Linked DNA regions of Homo sapiens. The protein of the gene in region 5 interacts with the protein of the main gene of each other region in a pairwise test. Each region holds a gene or a part of one and is shown on either strand. Other genes may lie near its edges.

Evidence for each region.
Region 1: the proteins of CCDC57 (region 5) and DTX2 interact in binary tests that used the Homo sapiens proteins (3 or more experiments, as listed by UniProt).
Region 2: the proteins of CCDC57 (region 5) and TRIM14 interact in binary tests that used the Homo sapiens proteins (3 or more experiments, as listed by UniProt).
Region 3: the proteins of CCDC57 (region 5) and ZSWIM3 interact in binary tests that used the Homo sapiens proteins (3 or more experiments, as listed by UniProt).
Region 4: the proteins of CCDC57 (region 5) and POM121 interact in binary tests that used the Homo sapiens proteins (3 or more experiments, as listed by UniProt).
Region 6: the proteins of CCDC57 (region 5) and IKZF3 interact in binary tests that used the Homo sapiens proteins (3 or more experiments, as listed by UniProt).
Region 7: the proteins of CCDC57 (region 5) and TIMM44 interact in binary tests that used the Homo sapiens proteins (3 or more experiments, as listed by UniProt).

What each region holds. Positions count from the first base shown.
Region 1 is NC_000007.14:76,482,209-76,485,708, reverse strand, and holds part of DTX2 (probable E3 ubiquitin-protein ligase DTX2), read right to left. Parts: intron 3,202-3,500; coding exon 2,562-3,201; intron 1-2,561. UniProt on the Homo sapiens protein: Regulator of Notch signaling, a signaling pathway involved in cell-cell communications that regulates a broad spectrum of cell-fate determinations.
Region 2 is NC_000009.12:98,095,223-98,098,722, forward strand, and holds part of TRIM14 (tripartite motif-containing protein 14), read right to left. Parts: intron 1-3,500.
Region 3 is NC_000020.11:45,874,614-45,877,117, reverse strand, and holds part of ZSWIM3 (zinc finger SWIM domain-containing protein 3), read right to left. Parts: intron 405-2,504; coding exon 1-404.
Region 4 is NC_000007.14:72,938,595-72,942,094, reverse strand, and holds part of POM121 (nuclear envelope pore membrane protein POM 121), read right to left. Parts: coding exon 3,414-3,500; intron 2,760-3,413; coding exon 2,686-2,759; intron 2,249-2,685; coding exon 2,127-2,248; intron 1,682-2,126; coding exon 1,579-1,681; intron 1,279-1,578; coding exon 1,102-1,278; coding exon of another isoform or gene 1,084-1,101; intron 259-1,083; coding exon 1-258. UniProt on the Homo sapiens protein: Essential component of the nuclear pore complex (NPC). The repeat-containing domain may be involved in anchoring components of the pore complex to the pore membrane. When overexpressed in cells induces the formation of cytoplasmic annulate lamellae (AL).
Region 5 is NC_000017.11:82,195,843-82,199,342, forward strand, and holds part of CCDC57 (coiled-coil domain-containing protein 57), read right to left. Parts: intron 2,583-3,500; exon of another isoform or gene 2,581-2,582; coding exon 2,472-2,580; intron 1,255-2,471; exon of another isoform or gene 1-1,254. UniProt on the Homo sapiens protein: Pleiotropic regulator of centriole duplication, mitosis, and ciliogenesis. Critical interface between centrosome and microtubule-mediated cellular processes. Centriole duplication protein required for recruitment of CEP63, CEP152, and PLK4 to the centrosome.
Region 6 is NC_000017.11:39,757,218-39,760,265, forward strand, and holds the end of IKZF3 (zinc finger protein Aiolos), read right to left. Parts: 3' UTR 501-3,048; downstream 1-500. UniProt on the Homo sapiens protein: Transcription factor that plays an important role in the regulation of lymphocyte differentiation. Plays an essential role in regulation of B-cell differentiation, proliferation and maturation to an effector state.
Region 7 is NC_000019.10:7,933,667-7,937,166, forward strand, and holds part of TIMM44 (mitochondrial import inner membrane translocase subunit TIM44), read right to left. Parts: intron 1,480-3,500; coding exon 1,399-1,479; intron 573-1,398; coding exon 423-572; intron 338-422; coding exon 198-337; intron 1-197. UniProt on the Homo sapiens protein: Essential component of the PAM complex, a complex required for the translocation of transit peptide-containing proteins from the inner membrane into the mitochondrial matrix in an ATP-dependent manner.

The DNA.
Region 1 (3,500 bases), on a different chromosome or scaffold from region 5:
AGCTCCAGGAAGCTGAGTGGAACAGGGCTGACAGAAGTCCCAGCACCTCTAAGAACCCTCCTGGGCCAGCAGATAGAGCACACTGTTCTCTGAAACAGGCTGACCCAGATACTCAGGGAGGGAAGTTGGGGGAGCATCTCCCTGAGCCTGGCTTGCCTATGTCTATGTCCTCAGAGAGCCCCGATGACACCTTCCTATACTCCCAACTCCCAGAAAGATCTCAGATGCACGTGCCCCAACTCCTGGCAGAAGATGCCCCGGAAAACTCTGACTCACCCAAGGCCCATCACCCTCCTGTCTACTGGCCTCCTCCTAGCTCATCCCTCAAGAGGCCTTTTGGGCCAGGTGTGGTGGCTCATGCCTATAATCTCAGCACTTTGGAAGGCTGGGGCAAGAGAATTGCTTGAGGCCAAGAATTCAAGACCAGCCTGGACAACATGGCAAGACCTTGCCTCTACGTAAAACTGAAAAATTAGCCGGGTGTGGTGGTGTATACCTGTGGTCCCAGCTACTCAGGAGGCTGAGGCAGGAGGATCACTTGAGCACAGGAGTTCAAGCCTGCAGTGAACCATGATTGCACCACTGTACGCTAGCCTGGGTGACAGAGCAAAACCTTGTCTTTAAAAATAGTAATAAAATAAAATTAAAATGTATTAAAAGAGCCCCCTGCCTTCCCGGGAATGTCAATAACTCCCCATGTGCCCCAGATAGCCCACTCTTGGGGTCTGGGCTGAATCCCAGCTCCGCTACTTGCTGGCTGTGTCGCCAACCTCATGGGCCTGAATGTGCTCTCCTGTAAGCGAAGAACACTGCTCAGCCTGAGAGCATCGTGGGATGAGTGAAGTCACTCAAGCAGCCTGCTCAGGAGGGCCTGGCACATGACACGAACCAATGAGCGGGAGGCGCTGTCACTGTGTCTTACACAAGCTGGCAGGGTCCTCGGAAACCCAGTCTGAACAAATACTAGAGGTCCAAGAAGCTGCCAAGGCGGTCTCAACCACCCTGTGAAGTTTCAGCCCTTGACGTGGCTGCGGTGGGCAGGGGTGGGCCGGTGAGCAGGGAGGCAGCAGGATGCCGACCAGGGCCAGTGCGGAGAAAGGAGATGATTTCCTCCCTGGGACCAGGGTGGCCCCAGGCCCACCCACTCCCTCACCACCCGCACCAGGGCACTCTCAGAAAGCCCTGTCCCAGCTACCACTCTGAATTCTCAAAATGTGCTCCAAGCCCAACATTCTCAATAATGAATGACGAAGCCCCAAGTCACCCAGACAGTCAGAGGGCTACGGCCAGCCCATTCACCTTGGCCAAATCCAGGGAAATCCTGGGGGGGTTCCTCATTTTATCTTTTTTATTTTTTTCCCCCGAGATGGAGTTTCGCTCTTTGTTGCCCAGGCTGGAACGCAGTGGCACGATCTTGGCTCACTGCAACCTCCACCTCCTGGGTTCAAGGGATTCTTTTGCCTCAGCCTTCCAAGTAGCTGGGATTACAGGCGCTGGCCACCATGCCTGGCTAATTTTTGTATTTTTAGTAGAGATGGGGTTTCACCATGTTGGCCAGGCTGGTCTTGAACTCCTGACCTCAGGTGATCCGCCCACCTCGGCCTCCCAAAGTGCTGGAACTACAGGCGTGAGCCACTGGGCCCAGCTTTAAGACAGGGTCTCGCTCTGTCACCTAGGGGGCTGAAGTGCAGTGGTGCGATCACAGCTCACTGCTGCCTTGACCTCCTGGTCTCCAGCAATCCTCCTGCCTCAGTCTCCCAAGTAGCTGGGATTACAGGTGTGTACCACCATGCCTGGCTAATTAAAAAAATTTTTTTTGTGGAGATGGGGTCTCGCTATGTTGCTCAGGCTGGTCTCTGACTGCTGGGTTCAAATGATCTTCCTGCCTTGGCCTCCCAAAGTGCTGGGATTAAAGGTGTCAGCCTCTGTGCCTGACCAATCTCCTCATTTTAAATGCCACCCGCTCTGGTCTGCACTGGGCCCGTGGTATCATTCTCTCTCTCTCAAGGAGCTGAGCGCTCTACCAGGCACTCTGGGCTGGGCTGCATCATCACGGGGGCCAGGTCACCCATGCCACCTGCAGCCACTGCCACGTGCTCCACATTCTGCCCTCCCTCACACCGCGCTGACAGCCCCTTGCACTAGACTAGGGCTCAGGGGTAAGGGCTGATACTCTGGTCTCTGGGTCCTTAGGGCCTGGCACAAGGCGGGAGTCAGTGTACAGGCAGTGACCCAGTGTTCTCGGGCACAATGCTCGCCATGCAGCCCGCAAGCAGAGGCCACAGGCCTTTAACTCTGCTCCATGTGGAGGCCCTTAATCATCATGAGTGAAAGGACTGTAGATTCTAACCCGTGTGGTGACCGCCAGGACTCAGGTACAAGGGGTCAGGTAGGCTCTGGATGGCCACGGCACCTCGGCACCCACATGCCACATGCAAATGAGATGCCACGGCAGGACCACCTAGGGGGCAGGAGCCGCATCTGCAGGAATTGGGGTGAGTCTTCCCGGCTAAGAGCGGAAACACAGGGCAGACAAAACGAGCGGCCGTTGCCCACGATACCTGACTGCACCGGAGGTGGAGGATCCTGGGGGCAGGTGCTGCGGTCCCAGGTGGGAGAGGCTGGAGCGGTAGAGGGGCTGGCTCCCCAGGGAAGGAGGAGCTGCGCCCCAGGCGTTGGTGGTGTTCAGCCTGGGCGCAGACCGGGCCCCGGAGAGTGAGGGTTTGTTGTACGGTGCAAAGGCCTGGTGGGTCCCAAACACAGAAGCGGTCCTGTGTGGGGGGTGCTGGGGGACGGGGTATGCAGGGAGGTTGGTCATGGAGTGGCGGTAGCGGCCTGACACGGGGCCAGTTCTGCTGCCACTGAGGCACTGGTGGCAAGAGCAGGCGACGCCTGTGTGGCCCGGCGGAGCGATGATGGTGGTCACCGGGTAAGGCGGCCCTGCTTGGCGCCGCACGCTGCGGCAGAAGCTGGAAGTCTTGTTGGTCTGCGTGTGGGTGGTGTAGTTGACAGTGTAGTTGTACCCCAGGGGGGCCAAGTCCACGAGCTGGTTGCCCCTGGCCACCTGCTGCTCCAGATAGTCACAGACGCTGGCTTCATAGGCAGTCCAGGAGCCATCGTCGCTCAGCCACTCCCAGACGACACCTCGGCCAGGGGCTGAGTGCTGGGGGAACAGGTGTCTCCGCACAGCCCGCATGGTGCCTATTTTCAAAGGAAAACAAAAGGTTAGTCTGCTAGCATCCCCAAGATACAGGGAACGTTCAAATTCTTTTTTCAACCGCCAAAATAAACAAATAGGAACACAGTAGGTACACAGTCATGCTGCTATTTGTTTATTTATTTATTGTTAGAGGCAGGGTACCCCTTTGTCGCCCAGGCTGCAGTGCAGTGATGTGATCATAGTTCACTGCCACCCTGACCTCCTGGGCTCAAGCGATCCTCCTGCCTTAGCCTCCTAAATAACTGGGACTACAGGCACATGACACCACACCCAGCTAACT
Region 2 (3,500 bases), on a different chromosome or scaffold from region 5:
CATGCGGAGGTGCGGTTTTTCAGTGCTGGCACTGGGGATTCCTCCCTCTCCATCCTTCCTCCTTTCCTTCCTTCCTTACGTGTTCATTGAAACCTACTCTGTGCCAGCTATGCATGCAGAAGGCAGGGTCAGGCTGACACGGGGCCCTTCCCAGAGAGGCTTCAGCCTCACACACACTGCGCCACGGGTCTGCCTTGGGTACAAAAAGGGTGAGAGGTCAGTCTCCCTGGGGAAGGAGCACCTGGAGCTTATTCAAAGGTGGAGCAGGAAACCATGTTCTAAGAAGGACGCCAAAGGCCAGCAAGGTTCAGCTGCAGTGCTGACTGAGGGGGTGTGGCCACCGCAGGGGACATGTGTCCTGTTTTGCACCTGGACAGCCCCTCTTCAATACTTTCCTGTGGTATGTGGCTTCACTAAGGAGAAGCTAGAAAACCCCCTCTCCCAGCTCCCTTTGCACCTGTGCTGCAGGAGTGTGACCAGACGCCTCCAAGCCAAAGCGTGGATTTGGAAATGACGGTGAAGGTAGTGATGGTGGCATGTGGCACTGAGGGACAGCAGTGGTGGGGGCTCTGGTCAGTGGTGTGAGTGGTGATGTCTTGCCCAGCAGGGGTGCCGTGGGGCCTATACTGGCACCAACCCCTGCTGGAGTCTGGACTTCATTCCTGCTGCCCATCTTCCATCCCGACTCTCTGGCCCTCCTGGAGATCCTATGGGCTATCTCATACTCTTCCATAAACTCCTTTCTTGCTTAAAACAGTTCCAGTGGATTCTCATGTTTGCAGGTAAGAACCATGGCTGCATTTTCTGAAGCTCTGTCCTGGCCAGGAGTTGGAAGGAAGATGACTGCCTCAGGTGATCAGGCTTGGCTGGCAGTGGCAGTGCTGCCCACCCGAGAAGGGGTGGACAGATGAGGGCCTCAGGAGGGAGGGAGGGTGGCCTAGCACTTGGCTGTTGGGCAGGGGCAGATCCCACCTGGCAGCATGCTGTACATTGGGAGGGGGCTGTGAGATGGCCTGCAAGCCCCATTCAGCCTAGGAGGCCAGGAGTCTATAGAGTCCAACCTCATTTTGGTGGGGAACCAGGCCTAAGGTCACACCCAGAGCGCTGGAATGGAGCTGGCCAGGGGAGACCAAGCACTAGCAGGAAGTCCAGGGTGGGCAGGGAGCAGCTCCGGGGAGGCGAGAGGGGGCTCAGAGGGCAGATGAGTAGGGTAGGATGAGGGGTCGATAGAGGACACATGGCACCACCTGGTAACCCCAAACTCCAGCAGCTAGCACCAGACCTGACACACAGGTTCTCAAAACATATGTATGATGGAATAAATCAATGCATGAAACCGAGCACAGCCACTTTTTTGCCTTTGCAGACTCAGAGAACAGAAATCCCAGCCCTTCATCTCTCAGGCCAGAAACCCAGGCATCATCTGGGGATTCCTCCTACCCATTCTCCAATTCCAATCTCCATTCCTGTGGCATCTCTTGACCTGCCTGTTTCTCCCCATCCCCACTGCCCCTGTCTTGGTCCAGGCCACCATCATCTCTCTCCTGGACATTGTGGCCTCCTCCCAAGTTCTCTTCCAGCCTCCCATCCTGGCCTCCTCTGTCCATCTTCCACTCTATCTCTAAAGTGACTTTTCTAAAGCACTAATCTGACCATGTGAATGCTTTCATCCCTCAGTTCAAAACACTCCCCTGGGCTGGGTGCAGTGGCTCACACCTCCCAGCTCTTTGGGAGGCCAAGGTGGGCAGATCACTTGAGGTCAAGAGTTTGAGACCAGCCTGGCCAACATGGTGAAACACTGTCTCTACTAAAAATACAAAAATTAGCTGGGCATGGTGGCACGTGCTTGTCGTCTCAGCTCTTCCAGGGGCTGAGGCAGGAGAATCCCTTGAACCTGGGAGGCAAAGGTTGCAGTAAGCTGAGATTGAGCCACTGCATTCTAGCCTGGGCAATAGAGTGAGACCCTGTCTCAAAAACAAACAAACAAACATTCCTGTCTCCTATCTCATTACAGGACAAAGTCTGAACTCCATGGCACATAAGGCCTTCATGAACTAACTATGGCCTATGGATCCAGCTGTGTCTCTCAATCCCCCCACCCTTATACCCTCACCTCTCCTCAAGTCAGGCTGCACCCCAGCTGGTTCCCCAGCCTGTCAAGCTCTCACATGTACACAGTTCCTGTCTGTCCTCTCTGCGTCCTCTCTATATACAGTGTGCTCCTACTCATTGTCCAGCACCCAACCCTACCATCACCTCTTCCTAGAAGTCTTCCCAGACTGCATCCTTCTCCCAGCCAGAGAGTGTCAGACATTTCTTGGACATAATTTTGCTAGCTTCATATTTACAAAATTGTTTAAGCTGTATTGTAAATAACTGTTTCTGAGCAAGTCCCCCACCCAACTGTGAGCTCCTAATGTCCAGCAAGTGACCTGGCTCAGTACATATTGATGAATAAACGAATGAACACATAGAAGGTGGGAACGGTGAATGATTAAAATCATTAGCTGTGGCCCAAGAGAATTTGAAAAAAAAAGATGACAAAGCCCTGAAACCGTTTTCTGATGTGAGAATAGCATGCTTCTCCATGGAAGGATTCCTTTGTATTCCATAGCCTTAAAAACGACCATTATTTAAAAAGAGACAATTACATGTAACACTTTGTGCATCTTGCCTCTCTTAAAGCACAACACCCATTATGCCTAGGAAAACACTTCATCCAGAATTTGGCTCAAACAGCTGACAATGAGACACAGGCTGAACCGACTGAGGCCACATAAAGACACAAGAGTGGAAATCCCCAGCTGGAGACTGGCTTGGCGGGTTTTGTGTTGACTGGCTTATTTGTCTGTCTTATTTTCCAGCCAGAGCCCATACTAATCTGTGGTTAGAGTTGGTGCCACTTTTAGTTGTACCCTGCCTTGTCCCACAGCCTTTAAAGTGTCTTGTGAAGGTCCTCTAATAAGGCAAGATTTTTCTTTATAGCGAGAAAAATGAAGCTAAGAGAAAATTAGACACAAAGTGTTTGCCATGAAGCCTTAGTCTGGTTAGTCAAAGCAGATTTGGCTCTGAACTTCCCAAGGCAAAGAAGGAAACAGGAGGAGCTCTATTAGTGGAAAAGCAATTCTAGTGCAGAAGTGACTGCACAGGGATATTGACACCAGACAACAGTTTCTTCCACGGTTCCCTAAAGACAGGAACACCATCGGCCGGGTGCGGTGGCTCACGCCTGTAATCCCAGCACTTTGAGGGGCCGAGGGGGGCGGATCACGAGGTCAGGAGATGGAGACCATCCTGGCTAACATGGTGAAACCCCATCTCTACTAAAAAATACAAAAAATTAGCTGGGCGTGGTGGGGGGCGCCTGTAGTCCCAGCTACTCGGGAGGCTGAGGCAGGAGAATGGTGGGAGGTGGAGCTTGCTGTAAGCCGAGATCACACCACTGCACTCCAGCCTGGGCGACAGAGCAAGACTCCGTCTCAAAAAAAAAGAAAAAAGTA
Region 3 (2,504 bases), on a different chromosome or scaffold from region 5:
CCTCATCTACCTTAAGAAAGTTCTTCATCACTTTTGCTATCTTGGCCAGGTCAGAAGGAGTGATGCCTTCCTGCTCTGGCTTTGAGGACACTTGTACCTTATCTAGGCAAAACGATGGCTCAACCAGGGACTTCTCGGCAGTGTCAAGGTCTTTTTTGGTTGTGGGCTGCACAGGCTGGAGTCTCTGCAGGCACATTGTCTTTTGAGATTTGCCAGTGGTGTCTCCTCCAGGACTAGCCACTTTAGAGTCACCATGTATGTGCTGTGTGTTTAGTTCACTGATAAATAGTCTATCTAGTCTCTCGTTGTACCTTAGGAGCAAGTACGCTGGGCACATGTCTGCCTCCCGCGTTCTCTTCCTGTTTGATTGGGTCCGAATGCAGACAAATTTCACCTGCACATACCTAGGGAAGGTAGAGGTAACAATGAGAAAGGTGCTGACCACCCCCCACCCCTTATAAAGATAAGACCCTGAAGGGGGCTGGGTACAGTGGCTCATGCCTATAACCCCAGCACTTTGGGAGGCTGAGGTGGGAGGATCACTTGAGCCCAGGAGTCTGAGACCAGCCTGGGCAACATGGAGAGACCCTGGCTCTACAAAAAATTTAAAAATCAGCCAGGTGTGGTGGTGTATTCCTGTGGTCCCAGCTATTCAGGAGGCAGAGAAGGGAGGATCGCTTGAGCCTGGGAAGTTAAGGCTGCAGTAAGCCATGTTCATGCCACTGCACTCCAGCCTGGGCAACAGAGTGAGACCCTATCTCAAAAAAACAAACAGCTGGGCGCGGTGGCTCACACCTGTAATCCCAGCACTTTGGGAGACCGAGATGGGCGGATCACCAGAGGTCAGGAGTTGAAGACCAGCCTGACTACCAACATGGAGAAACCCCGACTCTACTAAAAATACAAAATTAGCCGGGCATGGTAGTGCATGCCTGTAGTCCCAGCTACTCGGGAGGCTGAGGCAGGAGAATCGCTTGAACCCGGGAGGCGGAGGCTGCAGTGAGCTGAGATCGCGCCATTGCACTCCAGCCTGGGCAACGAGAGCAAACTTCCGTCTCAAAACAAAAAAACAAAAAAACAAAAAAACAAAAAACAAACAAACAGGAAAAACCCGTAGTAGGGCCAAGTGTAGTGGTTCCCAACTGTGGTCCCAACTACTCGGGAGGCTGAGGCTGGAGGATTGCTTGAACTCAGGAGTTTGAGGCTGCAGTTAGCTCTGATTTGTGCCACTGCACTCCAGCCTAAGCAACAGATCAAGAGTCTATCTCTTTTTTTTAAAAAAAAGAAAAGGATTCATATATTAATAGAATTAAGGAAGGCTGGGCATGGTGGCTCATGCCTGTAATCCCCGCACTTTGGGAGGCCAAGGAGGGCAGATCACAAGGTCAGGAGTTTGAGACTAGCCTGGCCAACATAGTGAAACCCTGTCTCTGTTAAAAATACAAAAAATTAGCCAGGCATGGTGGCAGGCACCTGTAATCCCAGCTACTCGGGAGGCTGAGGCAGGAGAATCCCTTGAACCTGGGAGGCAGAGGTTGCAGGGAGCCGAGATCACGCTATTGTACTCCAGCCCAGGCAACAGTGCAAGACCCCATCTCAAAAGCAAACAAATAAACAAACAAACAAAAAAAAAAATAGAATTAAGGAAAGAAGGAAGGCTGGGTGCTATAGCTTACGCCTGTAATCCCAGCACTTTGGGAGGCCAAGGTGGGAGGACTGCTTGAGATCAGCCTGGGCAACACAGCAAGAGACTGTCTCTAATTAAAAAAAAATTTTGGCCAGGTACAGTGGCTCACGCCTGTAATCCCACCACTTTGGGAGGCCGAGGCGGGTGAATCACGAGATCAGGAGATCGAGACCATTCTGGCTAACATAGTGAAACCCCGTCTCTACTAAAAATACAAAAAATTAGCTGGGTGTGGTGGCAGGCGCCTGTAGTCCCAGCTACTTGGGAGGCTGAGGCAGGAGAATGGCGTGAACCCGGGAGGCGGAGCTTGCTTGCAGTGAGCCAAGATGGCGCCACCGCACTCCAGCCTGGGTGACAGAGTGAGACTCTGTCAAAAAAAAAAAAAAAAAAAAAAAGTTAAAATTAAAACCCCCCCCAAATCAGGGCACGTGTTCTCAGGATCTCCTGAGAGTTGTGTCATGGGGAAAAAAACAATAACAACAAAATCCCCATGAACCAAGAAGAGATTTACATTAACTCTCCAGTCCCAATATAGTCAGCTCTTTCTTTAAGAGCCTCTCCAACTCCAGCCCCCTTCATATTCCTCTACCGCACTTCTAAGCCCCAACTCCATTCTCTCTTGGTTGCCATTTGTAGCTGCCAACAATTCACCCTGAGGCAGGACAAGAGGGCAAATAGACAAGCAGCAGCAGCAGAGTGCTTAGCTGGTTACTCCCGTTTAAAATGTCCCCATTGTTTGTGTCTTTTGGGAACTACCGCTGTCTCTTCCTTCTCCAGATAGCAAAGATAAAAGCGAGGATCCCAGGACATTGGACTA
Region 4 (3,500 bases), on a different chromosome or scaffold from region 5:
TGGGGGCGGGGGACGGGGCAGATGTGGCTTGGGGTTTGGTAGCCGTCTCTGCCTGAAGGGTTGGAGGTGCCTTGGTGTCAGTGGCTGGTACCATGGATGGAGCAGGGATCAGCCCCAGCAAAGTGGTCGGGGGTTTGGAGTCAAAGGAGGGGCTGGGGAGCAGCCCTGGCGGCCCTGACTGTGATAAACCCAGCGGGGGTAGGAGGCTGGGTGTCTTTGGAGGTGAGAGGGCCTCAGTGGTTGCTGCTCCAGCAGATTCTGGAAGAAGAATAGAAAATGTGAAATTGGAATAAACACTTCAAAGATGATGGTATTCAGTATTTCAGTGTCCTCCCCACGCCTACCACAGAGCCTGGGATCCAAGAGTCAGTCAATAAACTCAGCTAAGTCTACACTACAGGCCTGTACAGTAAATCAAGGAAGTGTTATTTCTACCTCACAGATCATCAGACAGAAGGGGATAAAATGGGGCCTAAATGGGGGCCTAATGTGTAGAGACTAAGACAGTCCAATTGTCTGAACTCTGAAGTTCACGTATGAATCTAGATATACTTTATTTGCCTACTAAGCTCACCTGCCAGGCGCTAAGAGCACACAACTATGAATGGGGAAGTCTCTGCCCTTGAGCAGGGAGGGTGCGTACGAACCCCAGGTTACCGTCTGATAAAGAGGTGTGCGCGCGCAGTGCCGTGAAGGCCTGGGCCGGGAACACCAGCAGCCCTCGAAGTGCTGGAGGGAAAGGAAGCAGTGCTGTTCTGGACCAGTGGTTCTGACAGGCAAGGATATCCTGACCACGCCACCACATTCACACTTCAGAGGTGCCGCACAGGGAAGATCATTCTCATCTGACAGATGAGGAAGGCGAGGCTCAGGGCAGCTACGAGCCAGGCTTCAGATCCTGAGCGTCGCAGCACCCCTTCTCTAACACTTCCTGATGCGGGCTCTGGCGCTGTTAAACGTGGGCCCGCTCCGGTGTGCTGAGCCAGGGTGCGTTCGGCCTGCAGAGCAATCTCCAGCGACTGACAGGCACGACGCCCTTATTCCAACTCAAGCCGGGGATGCTGCTCAGAAGGCTGGATCCACGGCCCCACTCCAGCTCACCTGGGCAGGGTGGCAGGCTCGGGGGAGTCTGCATCTTCTTCAAGCTCTCTAACAGTGGGTTGGTGCTTGGGGCCAGGAGGGAGGTGGGTGGGGAGGCAGGTGCAGCAGCAGGCAGGGTAAAGGTAAATGAAGGCTGAGTGATAGGTGGGGTCTCAGTGACAGAGTTCGAGGCAGCATCTAAGAAAGAAAGAAAGGTGAAGCAGTCCTGGCTTGTCTGGGACTTCTTTCCACATGCCTGTCGGAGAGCAGGCTCTCAGCACAGCTCATGGAGGAATGCCTGCCCTCAATTGCAGTGGTCCCTGCTGTCCAGTTCCCGTGAAGACCAACACGGATATCTCAGGTGAGAAAGACCACAAGAAAACATGGAACCCTACTTGGGATTTTCCCAGAGAAACCCATTTTTTCAAACACCAAAATAAAACCAAAGAAAACAGACACCTGAAACCTCTCCAGTGTGCAACAATCTGTGCTCCTTACCGCTCTTGTCCTCCAAGGCCTGGTTGAACCACTGTAATGAAGCCTTCTTCTCTAAGTCTAGGTCCTCGGCAGTGATCGAATAGCCAAGCTGGGGAGGTGGAGGCTACCAAAGTGAAAAAGAAGAAGTCAGGCCAATCAGAAAAAACGGGAAGGCTAGGCATGGTGGCTCACACCGGTAATCTCAGCACTTTGGGAGGCCAAGCCAGCTGGATCACTTGAGGTCAGGAGTTTGAGGCCGGCCTGGCCAACATGGTGAAACCCCATCTCTACTAAAAACACAAAAAATCAACCAGGCGTGGTAGCAAGCACCTGTAATCCCAGCTACTTGGGAGGCTGAGGCAGGAGAATTGCTTGAACTCAGGAGGCAGAGGTTACGGTTAGCCAAAATCGAGCCACTGCACTCCAGCCTGGGTGACAGAGGGATGTTGTCTCAAAAAACAAAAACAAAAATAAATTAGAAAAAAAATCAGAAGAAACTTGTCCTTAGCGTTCCTAATACTTAGGAGAGCTAAGCCGGGGAGGGCAGGAGTAGATGGACAAGACCATACCAAGGTCAGCTGTTCCCCTCGCCGAGAAGGCAGCAGCTGAACTTTCCGCTTACGCTGCCCAGAGCTGCCAGGTGTAGACTGAGAATTCGAGTTTTGTTTCTTCCTTGGGGTTGTATCTGCAGCTAAAGAAAGAAATCAAGACTCGTTTGCTTCCTTCCCTCTTCCAGAAATGGATGGTTGTGTCTACCCACTTCGCATTTCACATTGAGTTTTCAATGGGTATCTCTGAAAAGATTCAATCTTCTATGGTTTGGTTGCTTGGATGGTGTTTGCAAGATTAAGGCGCGCACACAAACCGCTTACTGTGCAGTAATTACTGGGATCACCCACAGGTGACTCAAACTGAGCTTACCTCTATCCAATCGTTAGTCCCTGTCTGTAGCCTTTCTCCCTCATCAGACTATAAACTTCTGAAGGAGAGGAAATCTCTCTCTTTGTATCTAACATGCCTTAGACATAGCAATGCTCAAGACCTTTTTTCAATAGGTATTAATCTCTACATCCTCCACAAACACCTCCACCACCAACAGCAGCCCCTCCTCCTGGCTCAGCAACCTACCCTTTTCTCCCTGGGACTCCCTGTCTGCTGCCAATGGAGTTGAAGAACTGGAATGATGACACAGCTCCTCTTCTCTGTCAGGAAAAAAGGAACAATTTAGTCTAGAAAGGCTTCTTGGCTGAAGTATTAAATAATTTCTCACACCCTCCTAACTACCAAGTGGCCAATGTCTAAAACAACCATCATTTAAGATCTCAGTATGCCAGGATAAAAAAAGTCAACAGGAAATTCCAACAGAATGAAGGGAGGCTGTTCACAGAGGCCATGAAGACAGCTTTTGTCTTAAAACAAGCACAAAACAATAATCTTCAAACCTTACTTACAACCTATCAAGTCCCTGGGAGTTCTAGACACAGATGTGATCCCTGAGGGAGTGGCATTCCAGCCAACTGCAAGCACCTAGGGGGTCAGCTCGAGTCAAGAACCTGAAGGCGACTGCCCGCTGACTTGACTCTCTCTGCTCTCCACTCTGCATGGCCTCTGTGCTTGCACCCGATCCCTCATGCTGGAGTGGGAGGCGACAGCCAGAGGCCACTGGAGTCAGTATCCAAGACTGTAGGGATGACAGCACTTCGGGTGGGTACTGCATTGTACCTCTCAGGGACTTAAGTTTCTTTGATTCTCCAAGTCACAGCAGCACAAAGCCTAAGAGCCAGGTTCGTTTCCCACCTTTCCTCACCCCCGCCTGTCCACGCAGCAAATGAAAACTGCAGGAGAATGCCAAGTACCTTATTTTCTTTGCTGGCCTCTCCGGTGTCTGGGAGCGGGAGGAGGCTGGGCTAGAGAAGGGTGATGAACTGGGGCCATTTCTCTTC
Region 5 (3,500 bases):
AGGATCGGACTACCCAGAACCACACCGGATGTGTGCTGCCCAAGTTTCCCCTAGTAACCAAAGCTGCCACGTTAAAACGTCACGTTTCCTTCTTTCCAGAGACAAGGATACTATCTGAACATGATAAAAAATCCATGTTCCCAACGTCTGAGATGGCTCTCCCTGAACGAGCCCTGCTGAGTCTGAGAAATTCGGCGTGGACAGCCTGGGAAGTCAGCCATAGTCACGGCCCAGCCAGAAACTCTGACAAGAATGGCTGCGCCCTGCCAACTACAACCAGCCTCAAATCGCCACTGTCCCCAGATGCTGCCAAGAGCCCCCCACCTGCTGGGCAGGACCACCCACAGCTGGATCCTCCTCAAACTCCTTCTTTGGAAGTGACTTTGGAGCCACTTGAGGAAGCCTCACTACTTAGAAAAGTCACCACTGGTCTCTTACTGACCACGGATTTTAGACGCTGGCTTCATGCCTAAAGAACTCCGGCTGTTCTCAAACTCATCCATAATCGACAAAGCTCTTTGGTTTCTGAGAATTCCAAGAGAAAGTCCTCTGCAGGCCATTTCAGAAGCAGCCTCAGGGACCTGTGAACAACGGGAGTGAGCTCAGCACTTCCGGGGACAACTGGACAGTCCACAGGAGGGCCCATCATGACGTGAGCGTGGCCTCCTTCTCTGCTGACCTGACTGTGGCAAATTAGTGACACACTGGCCTATCCTACTATGACCAAGCTCCCAACATCCGACAGGACCAGAGAGGGGACCCTGTCACACCTGCACAAAGCCCTTCATCACTGCTGCACCTGCACAGACGCAGCCCCTTATGACACCCCCATAGACACAGCTTCTAGTAACACTTACACCTACCTGCATAGACAGAGCCATTTATTACACCTGCACCTGCAGAGACGCAGCCCCTCATCACACCTGCACCTTCACAGAAGAAGCCCCTCAGGACACCTGCAGAGACGCAGCCCCTCATGACTCCTGCACCTGCAGAGACGCAGCCCCTCGTGACTCCTGCAGAGACGCAGCCCCTCATGACTCCTGCACCTGCAGAGACGCAGCCCCTCGTGACTCCTGCACCTGCAGAGACGCAGCCCCTCGTGACTCCTGCACCTGCAGAGACGCAGCCCCTCGTGACTCCTGCAGAGACTCAGCCCCTCGTGACTCCTGCAGACGCAGCCCCTCATGACTCCTGCAGAGATGCAGCCCCTCGTGACTCCTGCAGAGACGCAGCCCCTCGTGACTCCTGCACCTGCAGACACACAGCCCCTCATGACTCCTGCACCTGCAGAGACACAGCCCCTCGTGACTCCTGCAGACGCAGCCCCTCGTGACTCCTGCAGAGACGCAGCCCCTCATGACACCTGCAGAGACGCAGCCCCTCGTGACACCTGCACCTGCAGAGACGCAGCCCCTCATGACACCTGCACCTGCACAGGCACAGCCCCTCATCACACGTAAACCTGCAGAGATGCAGCCCCTTGTCACATATGCACACAGTGGCAGCATCTCTGACTGTGGTCTCTAGATATAAATCTATAGGATGTCTTTCAACAAAACCCCAGCACAGCTGAGTCTCTTGGAGGTGTAGGCTGAGTTTCCAGAACATTGAGGAGAAATTCGGTGACTGCCACTTTTCAGTTGAAGCATCTGTTTTTAAACTTATCATAATTGAATTCCAAATTCTTTTCCATAGTAAATAATTCATGTTTTTAAAATTATACCTTTCTAAAAATAAATTTAAAAGTTTCATCATTTCTGAGGTGTGCTGGTTAATTCCATGTGTCAAATGACTGGGCTACGGGCTGCCCGGATAGCTGGTAAAAAATTATTTCTGGGAGTGTCTGCAAGGGTGTTTCCAGAAGAGACTAGCCCTCCTCCTGTGGATGGGCGTCATTCAATCCACTGAGGGCCTGAATAGAACGAAATGCAAGGAAGGGTGAACTCGCTCTCTCTGCTTGAGCTGAGACACTCGCCTTCTCCTGCCCTTGGACATTGGGCTCCTGCATCTTGGGCCTTCAGAGCTGGACCAGGACTCACATCAGTGGCTCCCTGGTGCTCAGGCCTTTGCCCCTGGGCTGAATTACACCACCAGCTTCCCAGGTTTTCCAGCTTGCAGATGACAAACTGTGGGACTTCATGGCCTCCGTAACTGCACGAGTGAATTCCTACAATTTATCTCCTATATATCTACACGTCTCCTATTGCCTGTTTCCCTGGAGAACCCTGACTAATCCATGAGGAAAGAAAACAAGGAAACACTGTGGAGGTGGCTGCATGTAGACATCCCATCCTGTTTCCCTGCAGACCATCCCAGAGTGGCATCTGCCCCAAAGACCCCATTTTACTCCCAAGGAGAATGCAGGCAATGAACCAAATGGTTGTCTTTTCCTCAGCCCTATATGATTTCAGTTTCACAGTGGGCAGGCAGGGAAAGCACCCAGGAAGGGGCCGACCCAGAGGCTCTACCTGTCTCTGCAGAGCAAGCTCACCGTCGAGCTCCTCAAGTTTTCTCTCCAGTGTCCATTTTAGATTTTCATACTGTTCCCGGTGGTGGTCAATCTCACCATTCTTGTCACTATGGTAATAAAACAGCATTAAGAAAAGCCATACCAAATATTCAGCAAAGGTAATACATTTTCAAGGTGCACTTGACATGTGAAAGTTGGTGCTTTGCTTTTATGAAGGGGTGGCTTCAGCAGGACCCACGGGGTAGCAGAACTTCCAGCCCCACCTGGACCAGCATGCTACACCCATCTATAAAAGAGGAAATTAAATAGGGCCCAGAGTCTCACAACATAAAACCCAAAATGTCCAGGATACAATTAAAAAAAAAACCTGACAACCAAAAACCGGAAAGATCTGACCAGGCCCAGTGGCTCACGCCTGTAATCCCAGCACTTTGGGAGGCCGAGGTGGGCGGATCACAAGGTCAGGAGATCGAGAGCATCCTGGCTAACACGGTGAAACCCCGTCTCTACAAAAAAATACAAAAAAAATTAGCCGGGCGTGGTGGCGGGCGCCTGTAGTCCCAGCTACTCGGGAGGCTGAGGCAGGAGAATGGCGTGAACCCGGGAGGTGGAGCTTGCAGTGAGCTGAGATCGTGCCACTGCACTCCAGCCTGGGCGACAGAGCGAGACTCCATCTCAAAAAAAAAAAAAAAAAGAAAAAGGAAAAAAAAGAAAGATCTGAGCTTGAAGGAGAAAAGATAATAGGTAGATGCCAACACCAAGATGACACAGACGCTGGAATTCTTCAACAAGGAAGCTACAGCAGTCATTATAAAAGCGCTTCAAGTAATCTAGTAAAGCAAATGGAAAAACAAATCTCAGCAAAGAAAAAGCTATAGCAGGCTGGGTGTGGTGGCTCACGCCTGTAATTCCAGCGCTTTGGGAGGCCAAGGCAGGTGGATCACCCGGGGTCAGGAGTCCAAGACCAGCCTGGCCAACATGGTGAAACCCCATCTCCACTAAAAATACAAAAATTAGCCGGGCATGG
Region 6 (3,048 bases), about 42 Mb from region 5:
CGGTTTGGGTCTCCAGGTATCTAAAAACTGTATTTAAATATGGTCGAGTTTAAGGACTGCAACTCAAGTTTCCCAATGTGGATGTCTGTGAGCCCCCACACATGAAAAAGTCAGAACTTGACTGTATTTTAAGAAGAATCTCTGTTGAGGGAGGAAGGCAGAGCAGTGACTTGGAATAGGGGTGCACCATGCTGAATGTGCTGATCATGCTAAGTCCAGGTCCTCAACCTCCTCCAGTTTCCTTAGTGAACTAAGGACCAGTGGAACCAGGAACCCTATCTTGTGGGTTACAGGGGCCAGCAGCAGGATCACAGTGGTAGGCTCAGCAAGGCGTCAGGTGAGAACCTTTATTTCAGTGATAATTCATTTTTCTTGATAACTGGACTTTAAGAAATAGAGGGGCAAAATTAAGAAAGTATTCCTTGGGGCGGGATGAAACCCTTCTACATCCTGACACCAGCAGACACAAATCATAAGTGATAAGGATGCACAAGGACTAATTTCAAACATACCAGGATTTTTTTATTTTTCAGTGTAAAAATCAAACATGATAAACCTAGAAAACTATCAGCAGGGCTATTTCTTACAGGGTTCCAGCAAGGGTTAGCATTGTTACATTTCAGAAGCTGACTTTCTTTAAACCATCTTTACAGAGGAGTAAACTTCACAGTTCCACACATGGCTGGGCTCCAGGTAGAACTCCATAGGAGTGACGAGGGAAAGTCACCACTGGGCAGGGAGGGCATTTCTGAGAAATGCAGATGAGAGGAGAGGCTGTGAGCACAGGCTGTGTCAAAACCCAGGGCAAGGGCTCCCTCCCGCCTTCCCTCCCAGTGGGAAGGCCACCCTGAGCCCCAAACCACATTCTGTTCCTTCCTCGTCATTCTGCAGACAATGGTCATCCACAGACCACACGTGTGGTGGCTTTGGCAACCAGAAATTTAAAATAAGCTATGGTTTTTCCAGTAGCCAAAATGATCCTGCACCAAAGCTCATAGACTGAGAACCTGAGCATGCAAAACCACAGTCTGGGTGAAGGGATGTCTGCTTTGTAAATGACCTGCTAATTCTTTGCAACCCACAGTAATTTGGTTTCTGTGAACCCACAGAAGCAGGCCCACCAAAAAGGGCCTTGTCTGCTAGCCTGGAGTATACATGAGTCACTGGCGGTGGGATCAGTCATTTTTTAGGCTGCCCCATTTTCCTAACATGTTAAAATGTGTGTTCTCAGTCTTTTCAAGAGAGGAAGAAGCAAAGCGGCACTTACAGAGTGTGAGATAGACACAGATCTGTGGCGAGGGATTGGGGAAGGTGGGTGGCATCTTGGGACTCTCTCCAGGCTTTCTGGAGTGGGGTCAGTGGAGAGATGAACAGTGAGAAACATTTGAAATAACTCAAGTTTTGGAGCAGCGGGGGGTGGGGTACTAATGGCTGAGGACTCACAGACAGTGAGGGAGCAAAGCGCTTTGACTTCCCTGGGTGCGACACCATGAAGTGTCTATAGCACGTGGTTAGCTCACGCTGGTTCCAAGGGTCAGCAGATCCTCTGCCCTTGTGCATTAAAACAACATGAAGGAAACTGTTAGAGATCAGTTACCTCCATAATTCATTTGTAAAGGAATTGCTATTATGATCTAGTATGATCTTGGGATATTTTTCATGTCTTTAAATTTAGGACACGGTACATTTTCCACTGAAAATTTACAATCATCCAACATAATGCACACCACCCCTCAAAGGTAACATTAGCTCATATACAAAATCATGGAAAACCTCACAACATCCTTGGAAGGTAGATATTGTTATATCCTTACAAAAATTTAATACACCCATTAACATTCCTATTTCAAATAGCTCAATCGATATCAACACATAAGACAGCCCACAATTGTGATACAGTATTAAGAAGAAACTCAGGCCAGCCGCGGTGCCTCACGCCTGTAACCCCAACACTTTGGGAGGCTGAGGTGGGCAGATTACTTGAGCCCAGGAGTTCAGGACCAGCCTGGGCAACATGGTGAGACCCTGTCTCTACAAAAAGTACAAAAATTAGCTGGGTGTGGTGACCCACGCCTGTAGTCTCAGCTAGTTGGGAGGCTAAGACGGGAGGATGGCTCGTTGCTTGAGCCCAGGAGGTTGAGGCGGCAAGTAAGCCTTGATTGTGCCACTGCACTCAGCCTGGGGAAACAGAGCGAGACTTTGTCTCAAAAAGAAAAAAAAAAAGAGGAAACTTGTATCCAATTTATTCAAACTGCAAAACCCTGTGTATCTTCATAACAATGGTGGGGCAAAGACTATCTACAGCTGGGGCAAGGGAGAGGCACAGTCTTGTGTTACTTTACAAGCTCTCAGAAGTTTAAAGCCCACAATTGTCCTTCAGGCTCTTCTGAGTCCATGGTCCTAAAGGGTCAGGAGTCCTGAACCCTGGCTTATTCTCAGAACCATTCAGTCGTGCTGCCTTGGAGAACAGAGTCCTTTTCCTGAGGTGGCCCAGGTCCAGCTGCTGGTTTCAGATCAAAATTGACCTCCTTCATCGGCACTTATATCTCAAATCATTCTCCTTGTCTGAACTCTGGATATAGAGGTTTTTTGAACTATACTTTCTGTGTGAACACAAAAATAGCTTCCCATTCTCTAAAAGATGAGGTATCACTATATATCGGGTTTTTTTCTTCTGTTCCTGGTGCTAACTTTTAGGACAAAGTTTCACCACTCCCTTTTCTCTTCTTGAGCTCACAAGTCCCGATGCTGACTCTTTGAGTCCTCAGATAGCCAGGCTCTTTCACATCTTGAGTGTCCCAGAGTTTCCAAATCTCTGCTAGAGTCCAACATACCTCTTCTCAGTGGGGTACTCTTTAAAGTGAGGACTTAAACATTTCCATTGTGGTCTTATCACCTGGGATTATATGTAACAGTACTATTTTTTTCCTTAAAACATTCTTTTTTTTTTTTTTTTTGAGATGGAGTCTCACTCTGTTGTCCAGGCTGGATTGCAATGGCGCGATCTCGGCTCACTGCAACCTCCACCTCCCAGGTTCAAGCAATTCT
Region 7 (3,500 bases), on a different chromosome or scaffold from region 5:
AGCTGAGACCTCAAACCTAGGGGCTCTGAGGACCCCGCCCTCACCTCTCACCCTCAAATTCGAGGGAGCCGGGAACCTTGGGCAGAAGGCAAACTCAAGAAACGGACTCAGGAGGGAACCATTGGTGGGCTCCCGAAATGGACAGCAGTGAAAGCTGCCCAAAATGGGGGCAGCGAGGGCCACGGGCTGGTACCTACTCGTTTGGCTCAAACACTTTCTCCTCCTTGAACTTATCTCCCGCAAACTCCGTTCTCTTCCGGAGTCGCTGGGGCCTCCGGTAGGGCCCGGTCTGTCCCAGGACGCTGTCGTCAATTTCCTTCTTCACGGACTCCACCCCCTGCGAGGGAGGCACAGCGGGGCTGGGGTGGGTGTCTGGGTTCGGCCGCCCCAGGCTGCATGCCCTAGCCCAGGACTGGGCTCACCTGGGAGAGGGCTCTGAAGGCCGCTGTCCTGCCCAGCTTCTCCCCGCCTTTGGATACCGACTCGGCCGACTGCTTGGCCGTCTTGGCTGCTTCCTCCACGCCCTCCTTGATTTTCCGGCCGAGATCACTTTTACTGACTTCGTGAAGGCTCTACTGAGACAGACACAGAGAGGGGGCGTTGGCACCGGCCCTGGCGGCCGGGGGGCGGGGCAGGAGGAATGAATTCCTGCCGGAGAGAAGGGCGGATCTGGTTCCCCGAGGCCGGCAGAGGCCTTCTGTGCTCCTGTGGTACGCGGCACCCCCAGAGCCATGAGCACAACGGCACCCCCAGAGCCACGAGCACACCGCCACCCCCAGAGCCACGAGCACACCGGCACCCCCAGAGCCATGAGCACACCGGCACCCCCAGAGCCATGAGCACACCGCCACGGCTTCCGGGATGCTGGCCCTGGGCTCTGGGTGAGACGCTGGGTCTGCTGGCCCCTTTCCAAAATGGGCAGGAGTCCTCTGGAGACCCGGGAACTGCCTGGCAGCAAGGATTCCCAAGGAGGGGACCCCGGGGAAAGAACGGCGGTGAGGGCGCCCCATGCTGCGCAAAGCTGGACAGAACAGACAACCGAGGAGAGCCGCAGCACCCCAGGAATCCTGCCTCCCGCCTCTACCCTCGGGAGGGGGTGGAAGCGGCCCCTCTCCTCCTATTTTTAGGCAGGAAAAACATTTTCATGTTCTCCTCGAGTCCTGGCTAGCAGCACTTACTGCTGCCGACTCCCTGGGTCAACGGTCATGCAAGGTTGCCAGTCTGACCTCACCCTGCATGTGCCGGGAACTCCTGAAACCTTCCCGAGGGTGGCAGCACGCCCCATGCCACCCACTGCTGCCAAGCCACCCCCACCCAGGAGCCGACTCTTCCTCCAGCCTCCAGCGGCCAGGGGACTTTGATGGCCCCAGCGGCTCCAGGCGGGCGTGGAACTGTTACCTCCTTCACGGTGCCCGTCAGCTCCCCAAGCTTCTTCCGTAGCACCTCGCTCGTCCGCACGGTTTCTGACTCGATGGTTTTCTAGGTAAAGAGCGCTGTGTCCTTTTTTTTTTTTTTTTTTTTGAGACAATGTCTCCGTTGCCGAGGCTGGAGTACAGTGGCACGCTCTCGGCTCACTGCAACTTCCTCCTGCCAGATTCAAGCGATTTTCCTGCCCCAGCCTCCCGAGTAGCTGGGACTACAGGGCCCACCACCATGCCTGGCTAATTTTTGTATTTTCAGTAGAGACAGGGTTTTACCACGTTGGCCAGGCTGGTCTCAAACTTCTGACCTCAAGTGATCCACCCGCCTCGGCCTCCCAAAGTGCTGGGATTATAGGTGTGAGCCACTGTGCCTGGCCAACCGTTGTGTCTTTAAGTCTGTATGTTCTGACACGGCAGTGACATTTCTCTTACAGCCAAAGGTCCAAGAAGCATCTTCTCCGCAGCCCCTCCCTCCCCGCACCTGCCAGCATGTGCTGCCTCCAGGGCCCCCGGCTGCCCACATGGCTTGGATTGAGGGTCTCAGCAGCGGTGAGCTCCTTGCTCAGAAGGCCGGCAGACTCGGGTCCCCGCTTGGCAGCTACCTCCTGAGAACAGGAGGCCCAGCCTTCACCTTTCACCGGGTGGTAGGAGGTGGCCTTGCCTGTCATCACTGTGCCCCTCATCCAGCCTCCAGCCACCACAGCTTGGTCTTATGTCTCCCGCTCCATCCATCCCACTCCAAACTCAGCCTGCTATGTCTTCAGATGACCCCTGCATTAATGATAAAGAGGGGCTGGGCATGTGAGCTGTAGTCCCAGCTCTTTGGGAAGCTGAGATGGGAGGATCGCTTGAGCCCAGAGAGTTCGAGACCAGCACAGGCAACATGGCGAGACCCTGTCTCTAGAAATATAAAAAAATTAGCCAGGCGTGGTATCCCATGCCTTTAGTCACAGCTACTCAGGAGGCTGAGGTGGGAGAATCACCTGAACATGGGAAGGTCAAAACTGCAGTGAGCTGTGATCACACCACTGCACTCCAGCCAGGGTGACAGAGCAAGACCCTGTCTCAAAAAACCAAACTAGGCTGGGCACGGTGGCTCATGCCTGTAATCCCAGCACTCTGGGAGGCCAAGGCGGATGGATCACCTGAGGTCAGGAGTTCAACACCAGCCTGGCCAAAGTGATGAAACCCCGTCTCCACTAAAAATACAAAAATTAGCCTGGCGTGGTGGTGGGCGCCTATAATTCCAGCTATTTGGAAGGCTGAGGCAGGAGAATCGCTTGAACCCAGGGAGGCGGAGGTTGCAGTGAGCCGAGATCGCACCATTGCACTCCAGCCTGGCTGACAGAGCAAGACTCCATCTCAAAGGAGAAAAACAAAAAACGAACAAACAAAAAAACACAAATGAAACCAAACCAAACCAAAATGCAAGGGACCCGTGGCAGGTGCCTGCATCTCTGAGGCTCAGCTGCTCATTGGTAAAATGGGGACACTGTAACTGCCTCGCAGGGCCCTTACAAATAAAGGAATGCAGAGCCATTCCCAGAAGCCAGGGCTTGGCAGCTGCTCAAGAAGAGAAGTGACAATTAATAATGACAGGCTGGGAGCAGTGGCTCACACCTGTAATCCCAGCACTTTGGGAAGCTGAGACGGGCAGATCACTTGAGGCCAGGAGTTTGAGACCAGCCTGGCCAACATGGTGAAACCCCGTCTCTATAAAAAGATATATAGGGCTGGGCGCACTGGCTCACACCTGTAATCTCAGCACTTTGGAAGGCCAAGGCAGGTGGATCATTTGAGGTCAGGAGTTCAAGGCCAGCCTGGCCAACATGGTGAAACCCTGTCTTTACTAAAAATACAAAAATTAGCTGGGCAGTAGTGGTGTGTGTCTGTAATCCCAGCTACTCGGGAGGCTGAGGCAGGAGAATCGCTTGAGCCTAGGAGGCAGAGGTTGTGTTGAGCCAAAATCGTACCACTGCACTCCAGCCTGGGCAATGGAGTAAGACTCTGCTTCAAAAAACAACAACAACAACAACAACAAATCAGCTGGGTGTGGTGGCGGGCGCCTGTAATCCCAGC